2 separate regions of the Homo sapiens genome follow, and region 2 is linked to region 1. The links come from fine-mapping of genetic effects on gene expression. A gene starts in region 1. The other region holds a variant in brackets. All regions are shown on one strand. Distances are from middle to middle. Region 1 holds the start of CARMAL (coronary artery disease region linked MFGE8 regulatory lncRNA). Region 2 overlaps CARMAL (coronary artery disease region linked MFGE8 regulatory lncRNA).

The links.
Region 2: its variant is fine-mapped to the expression of CARMAL in esophagus muscle (GTEx, PIP 0.93).

Annotation. Positions count from the first base shown.
Region 1 is chr15:89,032,535-89,049,264 of GRCh38, forward strand. CARMAL (coronary artery disease region linked MFGE8 regulatory lncRNA) reads left to right here and starts at 8,464. Exons shown (of 4, transcript NR_183882.1): 1 at 8,464-8,766. It also overlaps a transcript of ABHD2 not described here. RefSeq lists an enhancer at 16,446-16,730.
Region 2 is chr15:89,074,858-89,086,611 of GRCh38, forward strand. CARMAL (coronary artery disease region linked MFGE8 regulatory lncRNA) reads left to right here. Exons shown (of 4, transcript NR_183882.1): 3 at 439-527; 4 at 7,634-9,372. It also overlaps a transcript of ABHD2 not described here. Among named protein-coding and RNA genes, the nearest start is that of ABHD2, 7.7 kb to the right of the region's middle. The variant C/T (reference allele first, on the strand shown) is at 3,997.

The DNA of each region.
Region 1 (16,730 bases):
CTGAGGAGTATGACTATTGGTTTCTCGCTGATGGAAACCCATCATATCCTACAAGAACTGATGAGTAGATCCTTGGCAGTCTGAAGCTTCTTGCTGCAAAGCTGGGTCCTCAGTCTCTCCTTGTTCAACCTTTTGTCAATGATTTAGATGAAGGTACAGAAAATAGGCTGGGAGGGACAGCTAATATCTTAAGGATGGCGTCATGATCCAAAGGAATTTCCACAGGCTGGCTATAGCAACTGACCGAAGTGTAGTCCTCAGACTAGCACTATCAGCGTCACCTGGGAACTTGTTAGACATGCAAATTCTTAGGCTCCACCTCAGACTTATTGAAATCAGAAACTCCAGGAGTGGGACCCAGAAATCTCTTTTTTTTCTTTCTTTCTTTCTTTTTTTTTTTTTTTTTTTTTTTTTGAGACAGAGTCTCACTCCATTGCCCAGGCTGGAGTGCAGTGGCGTGATCTTGGCTCACTGCAACCTCTGCACCCCAGTTCAAGCAATTCTCTTGCCTCAGTCTCTTGAGTAGCTGGGGCTACAGATGCCCGCCACCATGCCCGGTTAATTTTTGTATTTTTAGTAGAGACGGGGTTTCGACATGTTGACCACGCTGGTCTCGAACTCCTGACCTCAAGTGATCCACCCACCTCAGCCTCCCAAAATACTGGGATTAAGGCATGAGCCACCGCGCCCAGCAGAAATCTGTGTTTTAGTAAGCCCTCCAGGTGGCTCTGATGCACACTAGAATTTGAAAATCAAAGTTTTAGACCTGTGGGCTGACTCCAACAGCCTCTTATTCAACAGGGATAAATGTAAGCCTTCCCATCATCTCCACCCATCCCTTCACACCCAAATAAGAAAAAAAAAAAACAGTTACAAATGAGGAGCATAAGTCATTTAATAGTATTTGTGGAAAAGGCTCCGAAGTTTTAGAGATTTTTGTTTTCTTTTGTTTTTTACTATAACCTTGAAACATAGAGCCTTCCAAAAAGGCAAGTCAGTCTTTTTTTTTTTTTTTTTTTTTTTTTGAGACAGGGTCTTGCTCTGTTGCCCAGGCTGGAATGCAGTGGTGTGATCATAGCTCACTGAAGCCTAGACCTCCCAGGCTCCAGCCATCTCCCGTCCTCAGCCTCCTGAGTAGCTGGAACCACTGGCAAGCACCACCATGCCTGGCTAGCTTTTAAATTTTTTGTAGAGATGGGGTTTTGCCATGTTTCCTCGAACTTCTGGGGTCAAGTGATCCTCCTGCCTTGGCCTCCAAAGTGCTGGGACTACAGACATGAGCCACTGCACCCAGCCAAGCCAAGGCAATTTTTTTTTTTTTAATTTGAGACAGAGTCTCGCTCTTGTCACCCAGGCTGTAATATGATGACACGTTCTCAGCTCACTGCAACCTCCACCTCCTGGGTTCAAGCAATTCTCCTGCCTCAGCCTCCCGAATAGCTAGGATTACAGGTGCCCGCCACCATGCCTGGCTAATTTTTGTATTTTTAATAGAGATAGGGTTTCACCATGTTGGCCAAGGTGGTCTTGAACTCCTGACCTCAGGTGATCTACCCGCCTTGGCTTCCCAAAGTGCTGGGATTACAGATATAAGCCACCACCAAGCCAAGTCAATCTTAAATTACATTAAAAACAGTGTCTACTATCACTGAGTAGTACACAAGTGATTCAGAGATTTGGGGTTTGGGTCCTGGGATTACAAAATAGAAGATACAATGAAATATCTCCCTCCCATTTATTCTCTAGCCATCCAGTTCCTACCCCAGAAGCAGCCTATTTTGTTACCATATTTCATTGACTTCTAAGATATACATGTTTTTTCACATTTTAACATCTCTGAAATCAGGATGTGTCTTACAATAGCTGTCAGCTAGGTGGCTCTCATCACATTGATACCATTGCCTGCACTTGAGCAAACTTGGCTATAGCTTTGGTATTGTCATCATTTCAAATGATTTATGTGCATTGTTGACGCTACATGCGCTGACTTTACTTGCTATTTAAAATATCTTCAAAAAGACGGTACTATCAGCATTTAAATGAAAGGTCACTGTGGATGCAGAAAGTTACAGAAACAACAGTGAGGTGCAAAATTGATATTAGTGAAGCGAATTTATGAATTGTTAGAGTAATGATTTCCATTCCATATTTTCTTGCAGAGCAACCATTGAGAGGTTTTCAGCAGCAGTACCTCTCTGACTGCAATGTGCACACAAATCCGCTGGGATCTGGATAAAACACAGATTTTGATTCACTAAGTCTGGCATGGGTCAGATTCCACATTTCTTTTTTTTTTTTTTTTTTTTTTTTTGAGATGGAGTCTTGCTCTGTCACCCAGGCTGGAGTGCAATGGTGCGATCTCTGCTAACTGCAACCTCAGCCTCCCGGGTTCAAGCGATTCTCCTGCCTCAGCTTCCCAAGTAGCTGGGACTACAGGCACATACCCCCACGCCTGGCTAATTTTTTGTACTTTTAGTAGAGACAGGGTTTCACCATGTTGGCCAGGCTGGTCTCGAACTCCTGACCTCATGATCTGCCCACCTCCGCCTCCCAAAGTGCTGGGATTACAGGTGTGAGCCACGGCGTCTGGCCTCAGATTCCACGTTTCTAACAAGCCCTCTGGTGATATTGATGCTGCTGATGCATGCTTGGTCCATTTGAGGACCCCAAAGTGGAAGATACCCAAAAGAGAAAAAGGAATGTTACCTACTCAAATTCATGCCAGACAATGCAATTTAAGACTGGGGAAATTGCCAGATCTCTCAGAATAGATGCAAGAAATTTCAAAGCCATGAAGGGCTGGTGTGATCAATCATGTGTCATGCAAGGCTGTCGTTATGGCATCATGTCATATAGTTAACTGGCAGTCTTTTTTTAAATAGACTTTATCTTTTAGAGCAGTTTTAGTTCACAGCAAAATTTAGAAGTACAGAGCGTTCTCATACACTCCCTGGCCCTACACATACACAGCCTCCCCCACTATCAACATTCTGCAACAGAGAGGTAAATTTGTTATAATCAATGAACCTACATTGACACATTATTATCACCCAAAGCCCATTTCTTTTAGTGCTGAATAATATTCCATTGTCTGGAAGTACCTATAGTTTATTTACACATTCACCTACTGAAGGACATCTTGCTTGCTTCCACATTTTGATGATTATAAATAAAGCTGATTATAAACATCCATGGGCAGATTTCTGTGTGGACACCAGTTTTTAATTCATTTGGGTCAATACCAAGCAGCACAATTGCTAGTTCATATGGTAAAAGTATATTTAGTTTTGTAAGAAACCGCCAAATTAGGCTGGGAGTGGTGACTCATGCCTACAATCTCAACACTTTGGAAGTCCAAGGTAGGAAGATCACGAGTCCAGGAGTCTGAGACCAGCCTGGGCAACATAGGAAGACTCTGTCTCTACAAAATTTTTGTTTTAGAAATTAGCCTGGTATGGTAGCACATGCCTGTAGTCCCAGCTATTCAGGAGGCTGAGGTGGGAGGATTGTTTGAGCCCAGGAGTTAGAGACTGCAGTTAGCCGTGATCTTGCCACTGCACTCCAGCCTGGGTGACAGGGCAAGCCCCTGTCTCAAAAAAAAAAAAAAAAAAAAAGAAAAGAAACCATCAAATTGTCTTCCAAAGAGCCTGAAGAACCTGTAGCATTTTGCGTTCCCATCAGCAATGAATGAGAGTTCATTCATTCACACTGATTCAATGAGATGACCCAAATCCAGAACACTGACAACACTAAATGCTGGTGAGGATGTGGAGCAACACACGTGTTTGGGTCCTCGCATTGTTGATCTAATTTGAAGTTCCCTGATGACACATGATGTGGAGCATCTTTTCACATGCTTACTTCATTTGTAAAATCTTTGGTGAGGTGTCTGTTCCAGTCGCTTGTCCATTTTTCAGCTGGGTTGTTCATTTTCTTATTGTTGAGCTTTAACAGTTCTTTGTATATTTTGGATAACAATCTTTTATCAGGTGTCTTTTCCAAATACTTTTTCCCAGTTGGTGGCTTGTCTTCTAATTCTCTTGACAGTGTTTTTCACAGAGCAGAAGTTTCTCTAATTTATTGAAGTCCAATTTATCAATGATTTCTTTCATGGTTAATGCCTGTGGTGTTGCATCAAAAAAGTCATGTCCATACGCAACATCATCCAGATTTCCTCCTTTGTTGTCTTCTAGAAGTTTTATAGTTTAGTGCTTTACATATAGGTCTGTGAGCCATTTCGACTTCATTTTTATGAAGGGTGCAAGGTCTGTGTCTGAATTCTTTTTTTTTTTATTTGCATATGGATGTCCAGTTGTTCCAGGACCATTTGTTGAAAATACTGTCTTTTTTTCCATTGTATTATCCTTGCTCCTTTATCAAACATCAGTTGAGTATAGCTATGTGGGTCTGTTTCTGGGCTCTCTATTCTGTTCTATTCATCTATTTGCCTATTCTTTTATCAATATCACAGTCTCTTGATTACCGTGGCTTTATAGTAAGCCTTGAAGTTGGGTAGTATCAGTCCTCCGACTTCTTCTTCTTCTTCAACATTGTGTTGGCTATTCTGAATCTTTTGCCTCTCCGTTTAGCAGTCTTTTTTCTTTCTTGTGCATGCAACAATGGTATATCTTATAATTGAGGGCATCTTAGATCTGATGAAATATGAGAGTTCCTCATGGATATTTCTAGAGATATCTTGTGCCTATAAAAGCATATACATAAAAGTATTATTTTTCTCTCAGCCGGGCACAGTGGCTCATGCATGTAATCCCAGCACTTTGGGAGGCCGAGGCAGGCGGATCACCTGAGGTCAGGAGTTCGAGACCAGCCTAACATGGTGAAACCCCATCTCTACTAAAAATACAAAAATTAGCCGGGCATAGTGGTGGGCACCTGTAATCCCAGCTACTCAGGAGGCTGAGGCAGGAGAATCACTTGAACTCGGGAGGCAGAGGTTGCACTGAGCCAAGATTGCGCCATTGCACTCCAACCTGGGCGACAGAGCGAGACTCCGTCTCAAAAAAAAAAGAGAGAAAAAGGATTATTTTTCTCTCAAGTTTATTTGTTTGGAAAACAATAATTTATTGCTCTTCCTTCCAAGTCTTTGTGAATTTACAGAAAAAAAACAAAAACAAAAACAAAAAAACAAAAAGATCAACGTTTACAGACTGTTCAGTTCAGACTAAGAATGCCAGAGATGAGTACCTGTACTGCCGTGGCTGCCGGCTACATGGCACCAATGTTCCCCAGCAGATATGCGCTAAAGTTTAAAACAAGCCCCCTCCAGATTTGTATTATCACCTTCAGAAAGGCTGTATTCCTCACACTGCATCTCACACGACATACTCAGGTCGTTAGTCACATCTGAAAATAAACTGGCCAATAAATGTGTTTCCTTCTGTGCATCTACTTTCCACGAGGCTTCATATTCAATCCACCACCTTTTTAGCCACATTTTCTCTTCTGCTGTTTGTGCTAGAAGTTGTTGCTGTTGGGCTTCTCTGTGTTTTGCCATAAATTGGAGCAAGTTCCAAGCACCAACTACCTTCCTCTTCTCATTTTCTGCTGCTTTTGCAAGTTGGTCCACAGGCTCAATTAAACCACCAACTATTTCTGAAATGGACTGATTTTGCCCACAAAATCCATGCAGTCTTCCTTGGGGTCCCTGGTCTGCTACGTAACCTCAGGGTCCCGCACCCAGGCTTGCTCAGCTCATCAAAACACAGTCCTGCTTCACCCAGGCTGTCCTGGCCTGTTTCCCTTCCAGCTTCCCCGCAGAAGAGTGATTCTGCTCTGCAGGGTGACAGTGGCGGCCAGAGGAGGTGTGTCATCGGAAAGAAAAAAGTCTGCTTGATTGTCACAGGGACCGTTCACTTAACACGTATTTCTCGAGTGTGTGAGCATCTAGTCAATGCTGCTAGATGCCAGAGAGGCAAAGATGACTGCACTTGGTCCTAGCCCCTTGGAGCACCTTGTCTGGCACTGGCCCCACTGCTGCAGCCCTGGCTGAGGTCAGCAGGCTGCTCTCCCTCAAGTCAGTGGCCACCAGAGCCTTACCTGCCAGCCCTGTCTGCCACCATGGCTGCTGGGCCTCCCTCAAGCTTATTTTTGATGTCTATATTGTGGGTCAAATTATAAGAGGCTTTAAAAGGATGAGTGTAAATGGAGGTGTCTGTCCCCTAATGGGTGCCCAGAGGAATTTTTCCATGTCAGGTAAGGATACCTTTTTTTCTGAGGCAGGGTCTCACTCTGTCTCCCAGGCTGGAGTGCAAAGGGCGATCACAGCTCACTGCAGCCTCGACCTCCCAGGCTCAAGCAATCCTCCCACCTTTGCTTCCTGAGTAGCTGGGACTACAGGTGCTTGCCATCACAGCCAGCTAATTTTTTTTTTTTTTTTTTGTATGTTTTTGTAGAGATGGGATTTCACCATGTTGCCCAGGCTGGTCTTAAACTCAGCTCAAGCTATCTGGCCCCCTCTGCCTCCCAAAGTGCTGGGATTACAGGCGTGAGCCACTGCGCCTGCCCACCCGCCCCCCACCCCCCGACTTCTTTCTTTTTAAACATTTTTGTAAACTTCTCTCTTTTTAAACATGCACACTCACTCCACCCAAGCCTCTGAAGACAGAATTCTTGACCCTATTGCACTTACGATCTAATAGAAGAGACACAGATATAATATATTATGGTTTGATATGTTCACTGCTAGAAGTTTATGCCAAGTGCTGCTAGAACATAAATAATGGAGCAGTTCATCTTTCCTGGGGATAGGAGCCAGAGCCACAGTGAGCGCTGTTGACTGGGGTCTTAAAATTAAGCTGCATATGCCAAGCAGGGAAAGCGGGAAAGAGCATTGCCAGCAAAGGGAGCAGTATGATCAAAATTCCAAAGCAGTGCGTGCCAAAGGGCGTGTCATGAGCTGGAAAAGGTATGGTAGCACTGGTCAAGATTGCAATTTCAGTGTTCTTTTTTTTTTTTTAATTGAGACAGAGTCTCACTCTGTCACCCAGGCTGGAGTGCAGTGGCGCGATCTCAGCTCGCTGCAACTTCCACCTCCTGGGTTCAAGCAGTTTTCCTGCCTCAGCCTCCGGAGTAGCTGGGATTACAGGCACCCGCCACCACACCCAGCTGATTTTTGTATTTTTAGTAGAGACGGGGTTTCACCGTGTTGGCCAGGCTGGTCTCGAACTCCTGACCTCAAGTGATCCTCTCATCTTGGCCTCCAAAAGTGCTGGGATTACAGGCATGAGTCATGGCACCCGGCCAGTTTCAGGGTTTGTTTGAAATGATCACTTAATGAGTAACTGTCTCCCCTACTAGACTGTAAACTCTATGAGGGCCGGGGCTGGGTCTGTGTTCAACCACACTATGCCCCAGTGCTGAGCATGTCATGGCATTCAAATAAATATCCGTTGGATGGATGAATGGATGGAAGAAAGGAGGGATGAAATTTTTTAATTAAGAGATGTGTGCCAATTTTGGCAAATTTGTCAAAAATTTTGAAGAAAGTTTTTCTCAGTGAATATGAATATATTCCACTTGTGAATCTATTCACAGACTATGGGCTTGCTGGAACCTAAGAGTCATCGAGTAGTTTAGACTTCTTATCAATAGATTTTTATTTATATTCATAAGAGTATATTCTTGAATATATTTACTAATGCATTCATTAACAGTATATATTCGTATTCATTGAAAACATTAAAGAAAAAATTCTTTAGAATGGACAAATCAGAATATTTCACTTTTTTTTTTTTTTTTTTTTTGAGGCAGAGTCTGGCTCTGTTGCCGGGCTGGAGTGCAGTGGCACGATCTTGGCTCACTACAACCTCTGCCTCCTGGATTCAAGCGATTCTCCTGCCTCAGCCTCCCAAGAAGCTGGGACTACAGGTGCGTGCCACCACACCCAGATAATTTTTGTATTTTTAGGAGAGGCGGGGTTTCACCATGTTGGTCAGGGTGGTCTTGATCTCTTGACCTTGTGATCCGCCCGCCTTGGCCTCCCAAAGTGTTGGGATTACAGGCGTGAGACACAGTGCCCAGCCTAGAATATTTCATAAATGTAGCAAATTGGCTTTAGGGAACTTTTTCTGCTTCCAGCATTCAGCAGCTATTTGAAGGGTTTTGGAAGCAAAGGAATGGAGGGAGACAGGACGGCACCCTGAGGGAGACGCAGGGCTGAACGGAGCTGTTCGGGGATAGCTGTGGCTTGAGTGGGTCTGTTGGCTGAAAGGAGGGATTCGTTGAAGAAGGAGCAATGGACGAGGTGAGAGAGAGGATACTGGATGGAACCAGGTTTCAGAGGAGGCTGATGGGAGAATGTGAGGAGCACCAAAGCGAGCCTTAGGAAAAAGAAGTTCAGACAGACAGACACTTCGGTAAACCACAGCTCCCAGTATTCACCACTGTGTGTAGTCTCCTCCCACACTGACTCTGGGCTTGGTCAGCTGACAAGCTTTGGCCAATAGGGCTCTAGCAAGAAGATGCCAGCAGAGGCTTGAAAAGTGCCTACCCCTGGCCTGGGATGCTTCCTCCTGGGATGCTCCCACTTGGAACCCAACTATTGTGCTGCAGAAGTTTAACTTAACTGTGTAAGGAGGCCAAGAGGAGGCCCTGGCTGCCAGCCAGCATCAACTTCCAGTGACGTGAGTGTGCCATTCTGGAACTGGATCCTGCAGCCTCGGTGGAGCAGCCTCAGCTGATGCCATGTGGAACAGAGATGAACTGCCGCTGCCGAGCTCTGCCCACGTTGCAGAATCATGAGCAAATGTGAGTTTTGTGGTTTTAAGCCACGAAGTTTAGAGGTGGTTTGCAATAGAATGGAGGGGACTGCTTTTCTTCTGAGTTTCGGATTGAATTCTGCTTTACTATAACTTATTTATTATATATTTGTAACAATTCTGTCTCCACCCATCAGTATTCACCCGCCTAAGGGCACAGAGGCACCAGGACTCTGGGAACCTTCCTTGATGTCTGGATCTACTGCAGTGACTCTTAGTGCAGCAGTTAAAAGCCAGACTGTCCTAGTGTGAATCCGGCCTTGGCTATTCATTGGCTGGAAGACCTGAGCCAAGCCTGTGCCTCTGTCCGGGCATCTGGGTAGATGTCCTAGGAGTCCACTAAGAAGAAAACTGAGGCCAGTGAGAGGCAGAGTTGAGGCAAGGCGCAACTCTATTCCCCTGCTGGGGAAAGCAGCTCTGCCCCTCGGTCTGCCCTGCTGACCAGGCATGACACACCACCTCATCAGCAGGGCCCACGGCACCCAGACCTGGCCTGGAGGGGCTGAGACAGCATTGCTAGGGGTCAGATGGTCACAGAATAAGCAACCTGAGACCTGGAAGGGCATAAGCATCTTCCCCTACCTGGAATCAGAGGCATAGCTGAGGTCAAACATCAGGGCAGGAGGGCCTGGAGGGGGTCGGAACCAGAGGTCACCCGGGTGTTTGGTTGGGAGGGGCGTCCATCTTTATCTTATCCATCACCATCACCATTATTGCTAAACATACAGTGAGCATTACTATGTGCCGAGCACTCATCTAAGCCCTTTATACTTCTAAACTTCTAAACTTATCCTCATAGCCACTTTTGGACACCAGTACATTATTGTCTCCACATCATAGCTGAGGACTCAAGGGACAGAGGGGTTTTGTAACCTGCTGAAGAACATGCAGCAGCTGCATAGCATAGCCAGGATTTGAACCCTGGCAGCCTGGATCCAGAGCCTGCTTAGGACCACTCAGTGACACTATTGAGGATTTCAGCCACCTTCTCCATAACACTATAGTCTTGCTTTTACCCTACTCCCTCAAACATCTTTTTACCAGGTCAACATTAGCTTAAAAACTGAGACACTTTTCTTATTGAAGCACATGCTCCAAGTACACCCTCTCTGCTCCCCAATTAGACCATCATTCCTGCCTTCCCTCCGTCTTATCTCTTCTAAATCCTTACACCGAGTGCCACCTCCTCCATGAAGATTTCCTGTCCTGGTTACTTCCCACCTGGAAATTTATACCTTCTCTCTTTCTTTTTTATTTCCTTTTCTTTCTTTCTTTCTTATTTATTTATTTATTTATTTATTTATTTATTTATTTATTTATTTTGGAGACTTTTTGTTTTTTCTTTTCTTTTTCGAGACAGAGTCTTGCTCTGTCGCCCAGACTGGAGTACAGTGGGGTGATCTTGGCTCACTCTAGCCTCTGCCTCCCGGGTTCAAGTGACTCTCATGCCTCAGCCTCCCAAGTAGCTGGGACTACAGGTGTGTGCCACAAAGCCTGGCTAATTTTTTTTTTCTTTTTTTCTTTTTTTGCATTTTTAGTAGAGGTAAGGTTTCACTGTGTTGGCCAGGCTGGCCTCAAGCTCCTGGCCTCAAGTGATCCACCCGCCTCAACTTCCCAAAGTGCTGGTATTACAGGCATAAGCCACGGCGCCCGGCCTATACCTTCTTTCTTAATTTGCCCAGCACCATTTGTTTCCTCCACTAGTACATATTCCACGGCTTGCCGTAATCTGCTTTGATGCCTATGCTGACCACTGGGATGAGCCCCAGGGGCCCTCCCTTCACCATTCTGACAAATGTTCTTCCCAAAACCATGGGAGTAGCTAGGAAAAGGTAACCAACAGGGCTGTGGAGAAGACAGACAGAAGTAAGACATACAGTCCCTCAGAAGGTGGCAGCCAACCCTGCCTGAGCTCTTCTAGCACCCTAGGGGGGCAAGTTTGCTTTCAGCAGAAGAGCTGGGGTTTGGGCTGGGCATGGTGGCTCATGCCTGTAGTCCCAGCTACTGAGGAGGCTGAGGTGGGAGGATTACTTTAGCCCAGGAATTCAAGGTTAGGGTGAGCTATCTTTGTGCCACTGCACTTCAGCCTGGGCAACAGATCAAGACCCTATCTCTTTTTTAAAGAAGAAGAAGAAGGAGGAGGAGGAGAAGGAGAAGGAGAAGGAGAGGAAGAAGGGGGAGGGGGAGGAAAAGAAAGAGGAAGGAGGAAGAGGAGGGAGGAGGGGAAGGGAAAGAGGAAGGAGGAGGAGAGGAAGAGGAAGAAAAGAAGAAGAGGAAGAAGGAGGAGGAGAGGAGGAGGAGACGAGGAGGCGGAAGGAGGAGGAGGAGGAGGAAGGAGAAGGAGGAGGAGGAGAGGGAGGAGGAGAAGGAGGAGGGGGAGGAGGAGGAGAGGAGGAGGAAGAGGAGGGAGAAGGAGGAGGGGGAGAAGGAGGAGGAGGAAGAGGAGAAGAAGAAGGAGGAGGAGGAGATCTAGAGTTGAAGGCAATCTACAAGGTATATCAGCTTGGGATAAATATTTTGATATATTCATCTATGAGTTTTGTTCCCCTCCTCTTTGTATTTTTCTCTTTTCTTTTTTTTTCCTTTTTTTAATTTTTTATTATTATTATACTTTAAGTTTTAGGGTACATGTGCACAATGTGCAGGTTAGTTACATATGTATACATGTGCCATGCTGGTGTGCTGCACCCACTAACTCGTCATCTAGCATTAGGTATATCTCCCAATGCTATCCCTCCCCACTTCCCCCAACCCACAACAGGCCCCAGAGTGTGATGTTCCCCTTCCTGTGTCCATGTGTTCTCATTGTTCAATTCCCACCTATGAGTGAGAATATGCAGAGTTTGGTTTTTTGTTCTTGCGATAGTTTACTGAGAGTGATGATTTCCAGTTTCATCCATGTCCCTACAAAGGACATGAACTCATCATTTTTTATAGTTGCATGGTATTCCATGGTGTATATGTGCCACATTTTCTTAATCCAGTCTATCATTGTTGGACATCTGGGTAGGTTCCAAGTCTTTGCTATTGTGAATAATGCCGCAATAAACATAGGTGTGCATGTGTCTTTATAGCAGCATGATTTATAGTCCTTTGGGTATATACCCAGTAATGGGATGGCTGGGTCAAATGGTATTTCTAGTTCTAGAGCCCTGAGGAATCGCCACACTGAATTCCACAATGGTTGAACTAGTTTACAGTCCCACCAACAGTGTAAAAGTGTTCCTATTTCTCCACATCCTCTCCAGCACCTGTTGTTTCCTGACTTTTTAATGATTGCCATTCTAACTGGTGTGAGATGGTATCTCATTGTGGTTTTGATTTGCATTTCTCTGATGGCCAGTGATGGTGAGCATTTTTTCATGTGTTTTTTGGCTGCATAAATGTCTTCTTTTGAGAAGTGTCTGTTCACGTCCTTCGCCCACTTTTTGATGGGGTTGTTTGTTTTTTTCTTGTAAATTTGTTTGAGTTCATTGTAGATTCTGGATATTAGCCCCTTGTCAGATGAGTAGGTTGTGAAAATTTCCTCCCATTTTGTAGGTTGCCTGTTCACTCTGATGGTAGTTTCTTTTGCTGTTCAGAAGCTCTTTAGTTTAATTAGATCCCATTTGTCAATTTTGGCTTTTGTTGCCATTGCTTTTGGTGTTTTAGACATGAAGTCCTTGCCCATGCCTATGTCCTGAATGGTAAAGCCTAGGTTTTCTTCTAGGGTTTTTATGGTTTTAGGTCTAACGTTTAAGTCTTTAATCCACCTTGAATTGATTTTTGTATAAGGTGTAAGGAAGGGATGCAGTTTCAGCTTTCTACATATGGCTAGCCCGTTTTCCCAGCACCATTTATTAAATAGGGAATCCTTTCCCCATTGCTTGTTTTTCTCAGGTTTGTCAAAGATCAGATAGTTGTAGATATGCGGCGTTATTTCTGAGGGCTCTGTTCTGTTCCATTGATCTATATCTCTGTTTTGGTACCAGTACCATGCTGTTTTGGTTACTGTAGCCTTGTAGTATAGTTTGAAGTCAGGTAGTGTGACGCCTCCAGCTTTGTTCTTTTGGCTTAGGATTGACTTGGCGATGCAGGCTCTTTTTTGGTTCCATATGAACTTTAGTTTTTTCCAATTCTGTGAAGAAAGTCATTGGTAGCTTGATGGGGATGGCATTGAATCTATAAATTACCTTGGGCAGTATGGCCATTTTCACAATATTGATTCTTCCTACTCATGAGCATGGAGTGTTCTTCCATTTGTTTGTATCCTCTTTTATTTCCTTGAGCAGTGGTTTGTAGTTCTCCTTGAAGAGGTCCTTCACATCCCTTGTAAGTTGTATTCCTAGGTATTTTATTCTCTTTGAAGCAATTGTGAATGGGAGTTCACTCATGATTTGGCTCTCTGTCTGTTGTTGGTGTATGAGAATGCTTGTGATTTTTGTACATTGATTTTGTATCCTGAGACTTTGCTGAAGTTGCTTATCAGCTTAAGGAGATTTTGGGCTGAGACAATGGGGTTTTCTAGATATACAATCATGTCACCTGCAAACAGCGACAATTTGACTTCCTCTTTTCCTAATTGAATACCCTTTATTTCCTTCTCCTGCCTGATTGCCCTGGCCAGAACTTCCAACACTATGTTGAATAGGAGTGGTGAGAGAGGGCATCCCTGTCTTGTGCCAGTTTTCAAAGGAAATGCTTCCAGTTTTTGCCCATTCAGTATGATATTGGCTGTGGGTTTGTCATAGATAGCTCTTATTATTTTGAAATACGTCCCATCAGTACCTAATTTATTGAGAGTTTTTAGCATGAAGATTTGTTGAATTTTGTCAAAGGCCTTTTCTGCATCTATTGAGATAATCATGTGGTTTTTGTCTTTGGTTCTGTTTATGTGCTGGATTACGTTTATTGATTTGCGTATATTGAACCAGCCTTGCATCCCAGGGATGAAGTCCACTTGATCATGGTGGATAAGCTTTTTGATGTGCTGCTGGATTTGGTTTGCCAGTATTTTACTGAGGATTTTTGCATCGATGTTCATCAAGGATATTGGTCTAAAATTCTCTTTTTTGGTTGTGTCTCTGCCCGGCTTTGGTATCAGGATGATGCTGGCCTCATAAAATGAGTTAGGGAGGATTCCCTCTTTTTCTATTGATTGGAATAGTTTCAGAAGGAATGGTACCAGTTCCTCCTTGTACCTCTGGTAGAATTTGGCTGTGAATCCATCTGGTCCTGGACTCTTTTTGGTTGGTAAGCTATTGATTATTGCCACAATTTCAGCTCCTGTTATTGGTCTATTCAGAGATTCAACTTCTTCCTGGTTTAGTCTTGGGAGAGTGTATGTGTCGAGGAATTTATCCATTTCTTCTAGATTTTCTAGTTTTATTTGCGTAGAGGTGTTTGTAGTATTCTCTGATGGTAGTTTGTAGTTCTGTGGGATCGGTGGTGATATCCCCTTTATCATTTTTTATTGCATCTATTTGATTCTTCTCTCTTTTTTTCTTATTAGTCTTGCTAGCGGTTTATCAATTTTGTTGATCCTTTCAAAAAACCAGCTCCTGGATTCATTAATTTTTGAAGGGTTTTTTGTGTCTCTATTTCCTTCAGTTCTGCTCTGATTTTAGTTATTTCTTGCCTTCTGCTAGCTTTTGAATGTGTTTGCTCTTGCTTTTCTAGTTCTTTTAATTGTGATGTTAGGGTTTCAATTTTGGATCTTTCCTGCTTTCTCTTGTGGGCATTTAGTGCTATAAATTTCCCTCTACACACTGCTTTGAATGCGTCCCAGAGATTCTGGTATGTTGTGTCTTTGTTCTCGTTGGTTTCAAAGAACATCTTTATTTCTGCCTTCATTTCGTTATGTACCCAGTAGTCATTCAAGAGCAGGTTGTTCAGTTTCCATGTAGTTGAGCGGTTTTAAGTGAGATTCTTAATCCTGAGTTCTAGTTTGATTGCACTGTGGTCTGAGAGATAGTTTGTTATAATTTCTGTTCTTTTACATTTGCTGAGGAGAGCTTTACTTCCAAGTATGTGGTCAATTTTGGAATAGGTGTGGTGTGGTGCTGAAAAAAATGTATATTCTGTTGATTTGGGGTGGAGAGTTCTGTAGATATCTATTAGGTCCAGTTGGTGCAGAGCTGAGTTCAATTCCTGGGTATCCTTGTTGACTTTCTGTCTCATTGATCTGTCTAATGTTGACAGTGGGGTGTTAAAGTCTCCCATTATTAATGTGTGGGAGTCTAAGTCTCCTTGTAGGTCACTCAGGACTTGCTTTATGAATCTGGGTGCTCCTGTATTGGGTGCATATATATTTAGGATAGTCAGCTCTTCTTGTTGAATTGATCCCTTTACCATTATGTAATGGCCTTCTTTGTCTCTTTTGATCTTTGTTGGTTTAAAGTCTGTTTTATCAGAGCCTAGGATTGCAACCCCTGCCTTTTTTTGTTTTCCATTTGCTTGATAGATCTTCCTCCATACTTTTATTTTGAGCCTATGTGTGTCTCTGCATGTGAGATGGGTTTCCTGAATACAGCACACTGATGGGTCTTGACTCTTTATCCAATTTGCCAGTCTGTGTCTTTTAATTGGAGCATTTAGTCCATTTACATTTAAAGTTAATATTGTTATGTGTGAATTTGATCCTGTCATTATGATGTTAGCTGGTTATTTTGCTCGATAGTTCATGCAGTTTCTTCCTAGTCTCGATGGTCTTTACATTTTGGGCATGATTTTGCAGCAGCTGGTACCGGTTGTTCCTTTCCATGTTTAGCGCTTCCTTCAGGAGCTCTTTTAGGGCAGGCCTGGTGGTGAGAAAATCTCTCAGCATTTGCTTGTCTGTAAAGTATTTTATTTCTCCTTCACTTATGAAGCTTAGTTTGGCTGGATATGAAATTCTGGGTTGAAAATTCTTTTCTTTAAGAATGTTGAATATTGGCCCCCACTCTCTTCTGGCTTGTAGAGTTTCTGCCGAGAGATCCGCTGTTAGTCTGATGGGCTTCCCTTTGAGGGTAACCCAACCTTTCTCTCTGGCTGCCCTTAACATTTTTCCTTCATTTCAACTTTGGTGAATCTGACAATTATGTGTCTTGGAGTTGCTCTTCTCGAGGAGTATCTTTGTGGCGTTCTCTGTATTTCCTGAATCTGAACGTTGGCCTGCCTTGCTAGATTGGGGAAGTTCTCCTGGATAATATCCTGCAGAGTGTTTTCCAATTTGGTTCCATTCTCCCCGTCACTTTCAGGTACACCAATCAGACGTAGATTTGGTTTTTTCACATAGTCGCATATTTCTTGGAGGCTTTGCTCATTTCTTTTTATTCTTTTTTCTCTAAACTTCCCTTCTCTCTTCATTTCATTCATTTCATCTTCCATCACTGATACCCTTTCTTCCAGTTGATCGCATCAGCTCCTGAGGCTTCTGCATTCTTCACGTAGTTCTCGAGCCTTGGTTTTCAGCTCCATCAGCTCCTTTAAGCACTTCTCTGTATTAGTTATTCTAGTTATACATTCTTCTAAATTTTTTTCAAAGTTTTCAACTTCCTTGCCATTGGTTTGAATGTCCTCCCGTAGCTCGGAGTAATTTGATCGTCTGAAGCCTCCTTCTCTCAGCTCGTCAAAGTCATTTGTTCCGTTGCTGGTGAGGAACTGCGTTCCTTTGGAGGAGGTGAGGCGCTCTGCTTTTTAGAGTTTCCATTTTTTCTGCTCTGTTTTTTCCCCATCTTTGTGGTTTTATCTACTTTTGGTCTTCGATGATGGTGATGTACAGATGGGTTTTTGGTGTGGATATCCTTTCTGTTTGTTAGTTTTCCTTCTAACAGACAGGACGCTCAGCTGCAGGTCTGTTGGAGTACCCGGCCGGCCGTGTGAGGTGTCAGTCTGCCCCTGCTGGGGGGTGCCTCCCAGTTAGGCTGCCCGGAGGTCAGGCATCAGGGACCCACTTGAGGAGGCAGTCTGCCCGTTCTCAGATCTCCAGCTGCA
Region 2 (11,754 bases), 40 kb after region 1:
AATCTTGCTGTCATCCTGTTTCCTGCCTCATATCACTGATAACATTTCTCAAGCAAGTGGCCTACAGCGGTACCAATTCCTGGCTTCTCCTTAACCCTCAGGAGAAAAAGCCTCATTCCCTTCACCCCCAACCCTAAACTTTAGTACAGAGACACCCAAAGTTTATCAAAAGTGTTTGAATGGCCAAACCCAGAGGCCTTTTCTCGGTAATTCTTCTCTTTCAATTCAATTGAACAAGCGTGTTTTAGTGCCTACTATCACTTGGGTACAAAGAGGAATAAGTCACCCTCCTTGGCCTCAAGGGGTAGGGCTTGGGAGCAGCTATCATGTAAGTAAGGCAATACCTGAGATAGGAACTGTGAGGTAAAGTGTGAATGATGTGGGTTCTGGCCCCCAGCACTCAGCCTTATCATAGGTCTTTGCATCTACATCTATTAGGAATGGATGATTGAATGGATGAATGAACTCCACAGGAAGATGAGGAAAGCCTTTATGGATGGAGTGAGCTTGCAGCAGAGTCTCAAAGGGTGAGTAGAGTTTTCCAGGTAGGGAAGTGTGTGGGTGAGTAGTCCAGATCGAGTCAAAGGTATGGGAGCAAGGAACGGCCTGGTGCATTCCAGAAGTGTTGATAATGTCACTGGCTGACTCGGAGGGTGTGAAGGGGAGGAGAAGGAGGGAAGGCTAGAGAGGGAAGGTAGAAAGGAAGTGGAGGCGAAAAAAGATGCTGAAGGGCCTCCTGTACCTCCAGGAAGAGTTTGAATGTTATCATTTGGGCAATGGGAAGCTATTCCTGGGTCTTCACAAGGGAATCAGTTGGTGAGAACTGCTGTTTAGAAAGACAGCCCTGGCAGCAACTCAAGCGCTGGGAGAGGACAGAACCACCAGGGAAGAGGGTATGGGGAAGAAGAGCAGCAGGCTGAGGACAGGCCCAGGACTGAAGAATCAGGCACAGGAAGAAGAGTCCATGGGGCAGGCTGTGAAATGGACAAAGGAAAACCAGAGGTGCTTCCCAAGCAGGGGGCCTGGCCACCAGAGTCCCAAGCTACCAAGATGTCAAGTAAAGAAGAACTGAAAGCCAACTGCTGGATGCAGCAGTGAGTGGGGGTCACAGTGGCCTTTGCCAGAACTGTTCCAGTGGAGGAGTAGAGGAAGAGAGAAAACCACAGGAGCAGGCATCGCAAGCTCATGCTCCACCCACACGTCCCCTTTCTCCTTTAGTCCTGTGACCCATGTGCTTGCTCTCTTTCTCTCTCAAAGGAGATCCAAATTTAAAAATATGGAGCCAAGGGAATCAGTTCCTTTGCGAACACACTGAACGTTAGTTTTCTTCTTCTCTTTTGCAAAAACTTCTTATTTCACAAAATACTCAAACAAATAGACAAAGTACAGTGAAGTCCAGGTAGATATCATCCACCTTCAGCAATGATCAATCCATGGCCAATCTTTCATCTCAACACTCGTATCCTCATTCTTGTGGAGCAAATGCCAGACATTCTTTCATCCATCAGTATGTCAATATGTATCTCTGAAATAGAAGGACTTTTTATAAAACATAATCATAATATAATTAATATTCATTCCCCAATTGTTTTGTTATTGTCTTTTACAGTTTAATTTTTGTTTTGTTTTGTTTCGTTTCTTTTTGAGACAGGATCTTGCTCTGTTACCCAGGCTGGAGTGCAGTGGTGCGATCATGACCCATTGCAGCCTCTACCTCCTGGGCTCAGGTGATCTTCCCACCTCAGCCTCCCAAGTAGCTGGGACTACAGGTGCATGCCACCATGTCCAGCTACTTTTTTGTATTTTTGTAGAGATGAGGTCTCACCATGTTGCCCAGGCCAGTCTCAAACTCCTGGGCTCAAGTGATCCACTTGCCCCAGCCTTCCAAAGTGCTAGGATTACAGGCATGATCCATAATACCCAGCTACGGTTTGTTTTCATTTGGATGCTAATAAGACCCATACATTCCATTTGGTTGATCTATCTCTTCAATTTCTTTTAAATTTATAATTTTATAAGGTCCCCTTCCACATTTTTCTTTGTGGAAGAGGAGAAAAGACCCTTGTTCTCTGGATCACTCTGTGGTTAAGGGGGTAGGTCCTCAAATCAGATGCCCTGGTTCTATTTTGCTTTCTTGTTTTTTAGTACTTTTTGTTTGTTACCTACACACAGAAAAGTACATGAATCATAAGTGAGCAGCTTGATGAATTTTCATAAGTGAACACACCTGTGTAACCACCACCCAGCTCAGGAACAGGGCATCACTGGCACCCAAGAACCCCCTCTCAGGCCCTTTCCCAGTCTCTACCACCTCACAAAGGTCAGGTGACTTTTTCACACCACAGCCATGTGTTACCTCTTTTTGAACTTTATATAAATAAAATCATAGCATACATTTCTTGGATGACTGGCTTCTTTCACTCACCTTTATGCTGGTGGCATGCTTATCGTAATGATTTGTTCATTCCCAATGCTGCATAGTATTCCATTGAATATGAATGTTCTACAATCTGTTTATCCATTCTAGTGTTGATGGACATTTGGACAGTTTACAATCTTAAGCTATTACGAATGGTGCTATTGTGAATGTTATTGTCCGTGTGTTTCTTTGGGTACATACTTAAGAATGAGAATTATGCATGCTCATGTTGCCAAGGTTTTAATTTTGGGTTTACTTAATATCACTTTTGTGACCTCAAGCACATTATTTTACCTCTCTGGCCTCAGTTTCTTAATCTGTAAAACAGGCATAATCATATTCACCCTGTGGAGTTATTGGGAGGATTAAATATTTAAAAAAATCTAAAACTCTTAGAATCGTGCTTGTCTCTTAGTAAGGGTTTTATAAATGTTAGCTGTCAACCCTTCCTCCCTTTGTGGTGGTAACTTCTCAAGCTCCTTCACTGTTTTTCTCCTCCTGCCAAGTTTCATTCTCCCAAGTTCAAGTTAACCTGGTCTGCTTTTCTTTCTCTCTGAAACTTGTCTATGCCTATGACTTCCATTATCTTGTACTGTGGACAGCTTTTGCAACGTGTTACCTAGAAACTATGACTCCAAATCCCCTTGTCTACAAAACTCAGCCTCTCCCCTGCTTACCAATGCTCCCTTTCTAGTAATGATGTCATATTTTCCCTTTCCCTTGAATATATGTGTCACCAAAATCTCAACAGATCTAAAGTAAATTTACCTTTCTCTCCCATATTAGAACCACCTTGGGATCATCTCTGACCCTTCTCTCTTTCTTGCACCCCATATTTAATCTGTGGGGAAGTCCTGAAGAATCTATGCTCACATCACTGTTATTCTTTTCTTTTTACTTCCACTGTCTAGTTCAGGCCCTTAACAACTTACATTGAAACTAATGCAATAACCTGTTATCTCTTCTACCTGGCTCCAACCTCTCCTATTTCTAATTTTCTCTGAACATTGCCTCCAGATTAATTGGACTAAAATATGGCTTCATAATAAATCATCATGATAGGGCATATAACTGTGAAAAGAAAATAAAGCCTTGGGACCCCAAACTCACTATGTCAAAGGGAAAAATTAAGCTTGGAAACTGAGTCACACAAAAACTGCCTTCCTTTTGCTCCTAAACAGATCGTTGCATTTGGATATTTGGACTGTTTACAACCTTAAGCTATTACAAATGGCGCTATTATGAACGTTATTGTCCATGTTTTTCTCTGGGTACTTAGTTAGGAATGAGTATGTGATAACGGAAGGCCATCTATCTCCCCAGGTGGCCTTCCTCACAATTGCTTACAAGGAAATTTTTTGTGGGTCCCAAATCTTTCAGAATACATATCCTCCTGATGAACTACCCCTAAAACACAGTTCTGTTGAATCTCACCCTGACAATGTAGGCTTTTTTTTTTTCTTTTTTTTTTTCTTGTGAGACAGAGTCTTGTCATCCAGGCTGGAGTGCAGTGGCACGATCTTGGCTCACTACAACCTCTGCCTCCCAGATTCAAGCAATTCTCCTGTCTCAGCCTC[C/T]TGAATAACTGGGACTCCAGGTGCCTGCCACCAAGCCTGGCTAATTTTTTGTACTTTTAATAGACATGGGCATTTCACCATGTTGCCCAGGCTCATCTCGAACTCCTGACCTCAAGTGATCCACCTGCCTCAGCCTCCCAAAGTGCTGGGATTACAGGCATGAGTCACTGTGCCTGGCCAACTATGTAGATTAACATCTTATCTTCACAGGTATGAGACAAAGACCAGACTAGAAATAATTCCTCTGCCCACCCAAGACAAATGCATATTAGATTTCTTCCTCTACTCTGTGTTTACATATTTTATGTAAAATGTAGATTTACCAAGCAAGAAAACTAACATAATTGACTGTTCCTCTACCCGCCCCTTTCACATGTAAAATGTAGATTCAGCGAGTGCTAATCAAAGCCGCATAGGAAAGTAATCTCCTGTCTCATTGCTTACCCTTCCTTCTTTTTTTCCTTTCCTCTCTAAAGTCCTGAAAAACCCTTTTTGGAAAAAGCACAGGCCACAGATCCTATGGTAACTTGTGTTTCTTTCTCCCAGAAGAACTATGGTTACTTGTGTTTCTTTCTCCCAGAAGAAGAAATAAAACAAACTTCTACATGGCAAAATAAACCTCTACATGGCAAAATAAACCTCTACATGGCAAAATAAACCTCTACATGGATAGAGATCTGTCTCAGACACATTTTGGTTTCCATGACTTCTGAATGGCAGCATGAGGAGCTCCATGAACCCTCTCCCCAGTGAAATGACCATAATCTCTGGAAATTGCTTAAGATCAAAGCCACAACTATTTAAAGCCTTTGGAAATTGTTTTATGGGGATGCGGCAAATTAATAAACTTTTATTCAAGAAAATGTACTAAGTCTCAGTAAGAACAGTGAGAGTCAATAACATTTGTACCACAAAAGACTTCCTCCCTCCTTCTTCTAGCTCAGCATGATGGAAAAGTTACTCTAAGTAGGTGAAGCCGAGAACACGGGCTACCTCTTTCCCCAGCTCTCAGTTGAGGGCTACTATATCTCGCTGGGAGGGCGGCTGCCAGCATTTCTCATACCCTCCAGCTTCATGCTGCAAAAGCTCTACTTTGGACAAGACTGGCTGATAAATCTGGGGCTCACTTCGTAAACCTAGCCCCCAATCATAGGGCAGAAACTCCACCTCGGCCATGGCAGGCTGAGAATACTGGAGCCTGTGTTACCCTGGCCTCAGCTTGCTCATGGGGCAGAGATTCTTTACAGGAAAGGCAAGAGCAGAAGAGCAAAAGCTACTGCTCTGCCCAGCACTCTGCTCATAAAGCCGGATTGTCATCCTGAGATAAGGGGGCCACTGTCTCTGCCTGAGTTCCCCAAGCTCCGGAGCAGTGGTGCAGAGGTTTTGCCCAAGGGGAGAGGAAGGCGGTAGATACAGAGACCTCTGAAGTTCTTCCCAAGAAAACACTTTATGTAGAACACAATGTGGGAAAGTTCAAGTGTAAGGGTGTTCTCAAAAACAATGAAGATTTTGTTGGTAAGCAATTAAGAGGAGCCTGGGAACTCCATTCAAGCAACAAGCTGAACTGTAGACCAGCTAGAAGTGTTCTGGAGAGAACCAGGGAAAGCATCAGCTAAGAAGAGCCCCCTTGGTGTTAGAATAAGTCTCAAAGACTGACCTGAAAGATTACCCTTGCAAAGGGGCCCAAATTTAATGTACAAGACAGGAGCAATTCATGCCTCCAGGGCATTATCAAACACGAAAGAACAATCAGCCAGCAGTTGGTGGAGGCTAACGGCTGTATGTGATACCATAGCAGGCTGACAGCTTAACAAAGAGATAAGGTAAAGAGAAAAGGAGACTTTTTTTTTTTTTTTTTTAAGATGGAGTCTCACTCTGTCGCCCAGGCTGGAGTGCAGTGGCCCAATCTCAACTCATTGCAGCCTCTCACTCCCAGGTTCAAGTGATTCTCCTGCCTCAGCCTCCCAAATAGTTGAGATTACAGGCGTGAGCCACCACACCTGGCCCAAATTTTACTCTTCTAGGCACCTCATGTAAGTGGAATCATACAGTATTTGTCCTCTTGTGATTGGCTAATTTCACTTTACATAATGTCTTCAAGTATCATCCATATTGCAGCATGTGTCAGAATTGTCAGAATTTCATTCCTTTTTTTTTTTTTCTTGAGACAGGGTCTCACTCTGTCTCCCTGGCTGGAGTACAGTGGCACAATCACAGTTCACTGCAACCTCAACCTCCTGGGCTCAAATGATCCTCCTACCTCAGCCTCCCAAGTAGATGGGACTACAGGAGCACGCCACCATGCCCAGCTAATTTTTTTTTTTTTTTTTTTTTTTTTTACTTTTTTGTAGAGACAGGATCTCACTGTATTGCCCAGGCTGGTCTTGAACTCTTGGGCTCAAGCAATCCTCTTGCCTCTGCCTCCCAAAATGCTGGGATTACAAGCATGAGCCACTGCACCGGCCAATTTCATCCCTGTGAAAGCTGAATAGTATTCCATTACTTGTACTTACCAATTTTATTTATCCCTTCATCCATCAATGGACATTTGGGTTGTTTCCCCCTTTTGGCCATTATGAATAATGCTGCTATGAACCCTGGCATACAAATCAAATGTAACTTAAATGCCACGTCTGCATTGTGGGTGATACAAGAGATGATTATAGAATAGCACATGGAAGAACATTTAAAAACATAAATTTAAAATGTCATATTTAAAAATGTAATAGTTGGCCGGGTGCAGTGGCTCAAGCCTATAGTCCCAGCACTCTGGGAGGCCGAGGCAGGGGAATCACTTGAGGTCAGGAATTCAAGACCAGCCTGGCCACTAAAAACACACACACAAAAATTAGACAGACGTGGTGGCGCACGCGTGTAATCCCAGCTACTCGGGAGGCTGAGGTGGGAGGATCCCTTGAACCCAGGAGATGGAGGTTGCAGTGAGCCAAGGTCGTGCCACTGTACTCCAGCCTGGGCAACAGAGCAAGACTCTGTCTCAAAAAATTAATAAATAAAAATAATAAAATGTAATCCTTATGAAATGATTTTAATGTAATTAGAATAACTATAATCACACTTTAAGCCTGCAATATCACATATATTATTGCTTCGGCCCACAAGGTTTCTCAACCTCAGCACTATTGACATTTGGGATAATTCTTTGTTGTGGGGCTGTCCTGGGCACTGGAGGGTGGTTAGCAGCATCTCTAGCCCCTACCCACTAGAGGTCAACAGCACCCCTGCAGTTGTGACAACCACAGACATTGTCAAGTGTCCCCTGAGGGATGAAACTGCCCCCAGTTGAGAACCACTGGTTTAGGATGGGGCTGAATAAGGTATTTAATTTTAAAAGTTGAGTCAATTTAATAACATTATTAAGTAAATAATAAAGCAGAGAGTACAGAGATAGGGTCAAAATTATCAATGTGGTTTGCAGATGCCTGGAGTTTGGGATGTTTGCTCTGCAACTATGCGAGGATATCCAAATACCCAAGGGGCTGAGACGAAGCCATTAACTAAGATGAAGGCATTATCTGGCCTCCACCACCAGCCCCATCCATTTTTTTCATCTTCTCGCCTACTGGGTCCCTATTTGACTCTGCTATGGACAAACTATCTTGTGTTCATCCACTCACAGGCCTACCTGGAATGCCATGCTCCCTCACCGCCAATGCTGCCCTACCAAATTCAGCCCATAGACCTTCAAAAACCAATTCAAATCTCCAAGAATCCAAGTCAGAAGAAATTGCTGCCTCCTCTGAATAATTATTGCTGACACTGATTGCACTCTGTGCTTATTGCTCAGTCCTTTGAGTTATCTCGTCAATATTTCCCATTTGTCCTATATCCATCCCCACCTAGGAATGAATGGGACTTCATGATTCTGTCTTTCTAGTATTAGATGTCTTGCTCAGTAAAAAATGTTTACTGTCTTGTAAATTAATTTAAATATATGGTAAAATAATATAGGGGTCTCTGGAAAGATGGAAATTGTTTGTTATTGTTTTTGAGACGGAGTCTCACTCTGTTGCCCAGGCTGCAGTGCAATGGTGTAATCTCAGTGCAATCTTGGCTCACTGCAACCTCCGCCTACCAGGTTCAAGCGATTCTCCTGCCTCAACCTCCCAGGTAGCTGGAATTACAGGCGCCTGCCACCACGCTGGGCTAATTTTTGTATTTTAAGTAGAGACGGAGTTTCACCATGTTGGCCAGGCTGGTCTCGAGCTCCTGACCTCAAGTGATCCACCCGCCTGGGCCTCCCAAACTGCTGGGATTACAGGTGTGAGCCACTGTGCCCGGCCTGTTTTTGTTTTTTTGTGGGTTTTTTGTAGTTGTTGTTATTTTTTTACACTGCATCTCGCCTTCTCCGGAAATAGTTTTAAAATAGCTCAATAACATAAAATTATGTAGGAAAGGGTGTATGATGAGCTTATTTAATGCACAAGTTTTATCGACTGTTTTGCAATTAATAGTATGAAAAACTCAATTTTTATTTCTGTAATTAAGAATGACATCAGGAAGAGGAATGCATGGTGACTAAGAAGAAGTCATCATTAGCCAGTCACCTGTCAGATATTCTGTATGTATCTGATTATAAGATTAGAACACTTTTTCATCTGTGTGTGTGCGCGCGTGCACGTGCGTGTATGTGTGTTTGTGTGTTTCATGAGCATTTTTAGTACTGGGTCCTATATATGTAAGTATAAATATTACCATAAAATTTATCAACCAAATTGGGACTATTTGAGAGTCACCTGGTGGGAGGGAGGGCACTATTAAAATTTTGCCAGGACAACATACATAAGCCAGGAGTGTTCATCTTATGATTTTACTATAGACAACTCACATATAGCTTAAGAAAGCAGCTCAAATCACAGACAAGATTATTTTTCATGATCGTTTTCACTGGCCACCAGAAAGCCTTTTCTAATAACAAAAGGACCACATTTTTGAATTTCATCATAGTTTGTCCTCATGGAACTATTGCATGCTGGGACTTAAAGCCTCTAAACAAACTTCATCTCCATTACCAATAAGAAGCCAGACAGTCGACCTGGTAACAGGACATTCTGAACCTCCTTCCTAGACTGCATGCAGACTGCACCGGCTGTGACAATAAAGCCACAATATTGGATCCCTCAGACTGCACCATGTCATGACTGCAGGAATACTTTATGAACCTCCAGGCTGCAGCTTTTACTATTATTCTCTTAGCCTCATCCTTTCCATTTCCCTCACAGTGATTACACTGATGAGGTCTAGTCTCAAAAACCTTAACTCGGTCCTCAAACCGTTTTTGGTAACCATATTCGAAAGGAAAAGTTTCTCGCACCAGGTGGTGAGATTTTGCTAGTGTAAAAAAAAAAAAAAAAAAAATCCTGCATGTGTTGGAGAGTGTGTATATAGGAACTGTCTGTACTTTCCACTTAATTTTGTTATAAACCTAAAACTATTTATTTATTTAGAGACAGAGTCTCCCTCTGTTGCCCAGGCTGGAGTGCAGTGGTACGATCTTGGTTCACTGCATCCGCCGCCTCCTAGGTTCAAGCGATTCTCCTGCCTCAGCCTCCCAAGTAGCTGGGATTACAGGCACACGTCACCACACCCAGCTAATTTTTGTATTTTTAGTAGAGACGGTGTTTCGCCAATTGACCAGACTGGTCTCAAACTCCTGGCTTCAAGTGATCCGCCCACCTCAGCCTCCCAAAGTGTTGGGATTACAGGCATGAGCCACGGCGCCTGGCCCTAAAACTGCTTTAAAAAATAAAGTCTATCTATATTTTCTAAAAATCCTGAATCCTGTGATCACTACTTCTGAGGGCTAGAACTTAGAAAATGAGTGAGGACCTTAGAGGAAGGTTCTGAAATGGGCTCCTATAATAGCTGTGGCAAACATTTATTAAACATTTTTAGGTATTTGCCAGGTACTGTTTGATGCACTTTGCATCTGTGAACTCATCTGCCACTCAAAGGACCCCATGAGACAAGCACTTCACTGTCCTCTGCGTTTTACAGAAGAAAGTAGGGCACAGAGATGTGCTGTACTCGCCCAAGGTCACAAGGCTAGGAAGGATGGAATCAGGATCCAATCCCCAGCAGTAGAGCTTCCAAATCCCCTTTCTCTGAACCATCCCCCGAGGACACAGAATAACAAAAATGACAAACTGAGTGAATTGCTGATTTTCCTTAAAAGAATAAATAGAACATATTATCTGCTCCAACCACTGCTCCCTGCTGTCTCCCAGAGTACCTTGACTTTCTCAGGTTAGTAAATCCTGCAGAGGCCCCAGTTGAGTTAGAAGCAGTTCTGCTTTAATGAAGTCCTGCAGCTTTGGCCATCCCAGAAGGTGACTGGGGCATACCCTCTCCCTTGTTCTTTTTTATTACAAGGTACTGTCACGGTTTTGAAAATTCACTTTACAGCCACATCCCAACACCTGCTTATCTCAGGCCAAGGCTCACCAAATCCTCAATCCCAACGGGCCACTAAACTTGAAGGCAAAAATAAGTCCATTTTGTCTCCTAAATGGCCTCCCTCAGAAATGATTTATAGAATGAAATAATATGATTAAACAGAATATGGCAAGACTGCAAGCAGAAGGGAGGAAACAGAAACCAGAGACAATTAAGGAAACAGTTCTGTGTGCTGGGAAATGATAATGGATCATTCTTTAAGCCTGCCAGAGCTGCAGAGAAGATGCCCGGATCCTTTTACTCTTCCTCCTCTTCCTGAGCTCAGTCTGTGCCTCTTTTTGAGCCTCTGTGACATAATTGTGTTTTAGAATTCCTGAACTGGAAAGATGTCCTTTTCTGGAACTGGTGGCTGAACCTATGTTCCTGAGATGGGAGAAAAAAGCCATTTACACAATGGCGAGCCCATCTGCAATCTACTCCTAACAGCTGCTTTTTGTGGCTCTGAATCAAGTTGGAGAAATCATCCTGGATCTCAGGAGCCACTTCATGCTTTTCAGGGCCTAACAAGACATCTCACTTTCCCTTAGCAAACACAGGCAGAAGCAAACCTGTATTGGGCTGGGCCTATTTCCGTAACATGCATGCAGCCATGTGTATGGCTACCAAGCAGCACTGTTTAAAGACAAGAACCAGAAAACTGTGGATCAGAACCAAATGTGTACATAGATATGTGTACACACCCCTCCAAAACTAGTGACAAATCTTTTTTGTTTTTTTTTTTCTGAGACAGAGTCTCACTCTGTCATCCAAGCTGGAATGCAGTGGTGCAATCTCACTGCAGCCTCTGCTTCCTGGGTTCAAACGATTATCCTGCCTCAGCCTCCTGAGTAGCTGGGATTACAGGTGTGTGCCACCATGCCCAGCTAATTTTGTATTTTTAGTAGAGATGGGGTTTCACCATGATGGCCAGGCTGGTCTGGAACTGCTGACCTCAGGTGATCCTCCTGCCTTGGCCTCCCAAAGTGCTGGGATTACAGGCTTGAGCCACTGTGCCCAGCCTATTTTTTAAATTATTATTAATTTTTAATTGACAAAATTTGTATATATTTATGATGTACAACATGCTTTACTTATTTATGTTTATCATGTTATTATGTTTATTTGTCAAACAAGGTCTCACTCTGTGGCCCAGGCTGGAGTGCAGTGGTGCGATCACAGCTCACTGCAGCCTCAACTTCCTGGGCTCAAACAACCCTCCTGCCTCAGCCTCCCCACTAGCTGGGACTACAGGCATGCACCACCACATCAGGCTAAATTTTAAATTTTTTGTAGAGACGGGGTCTC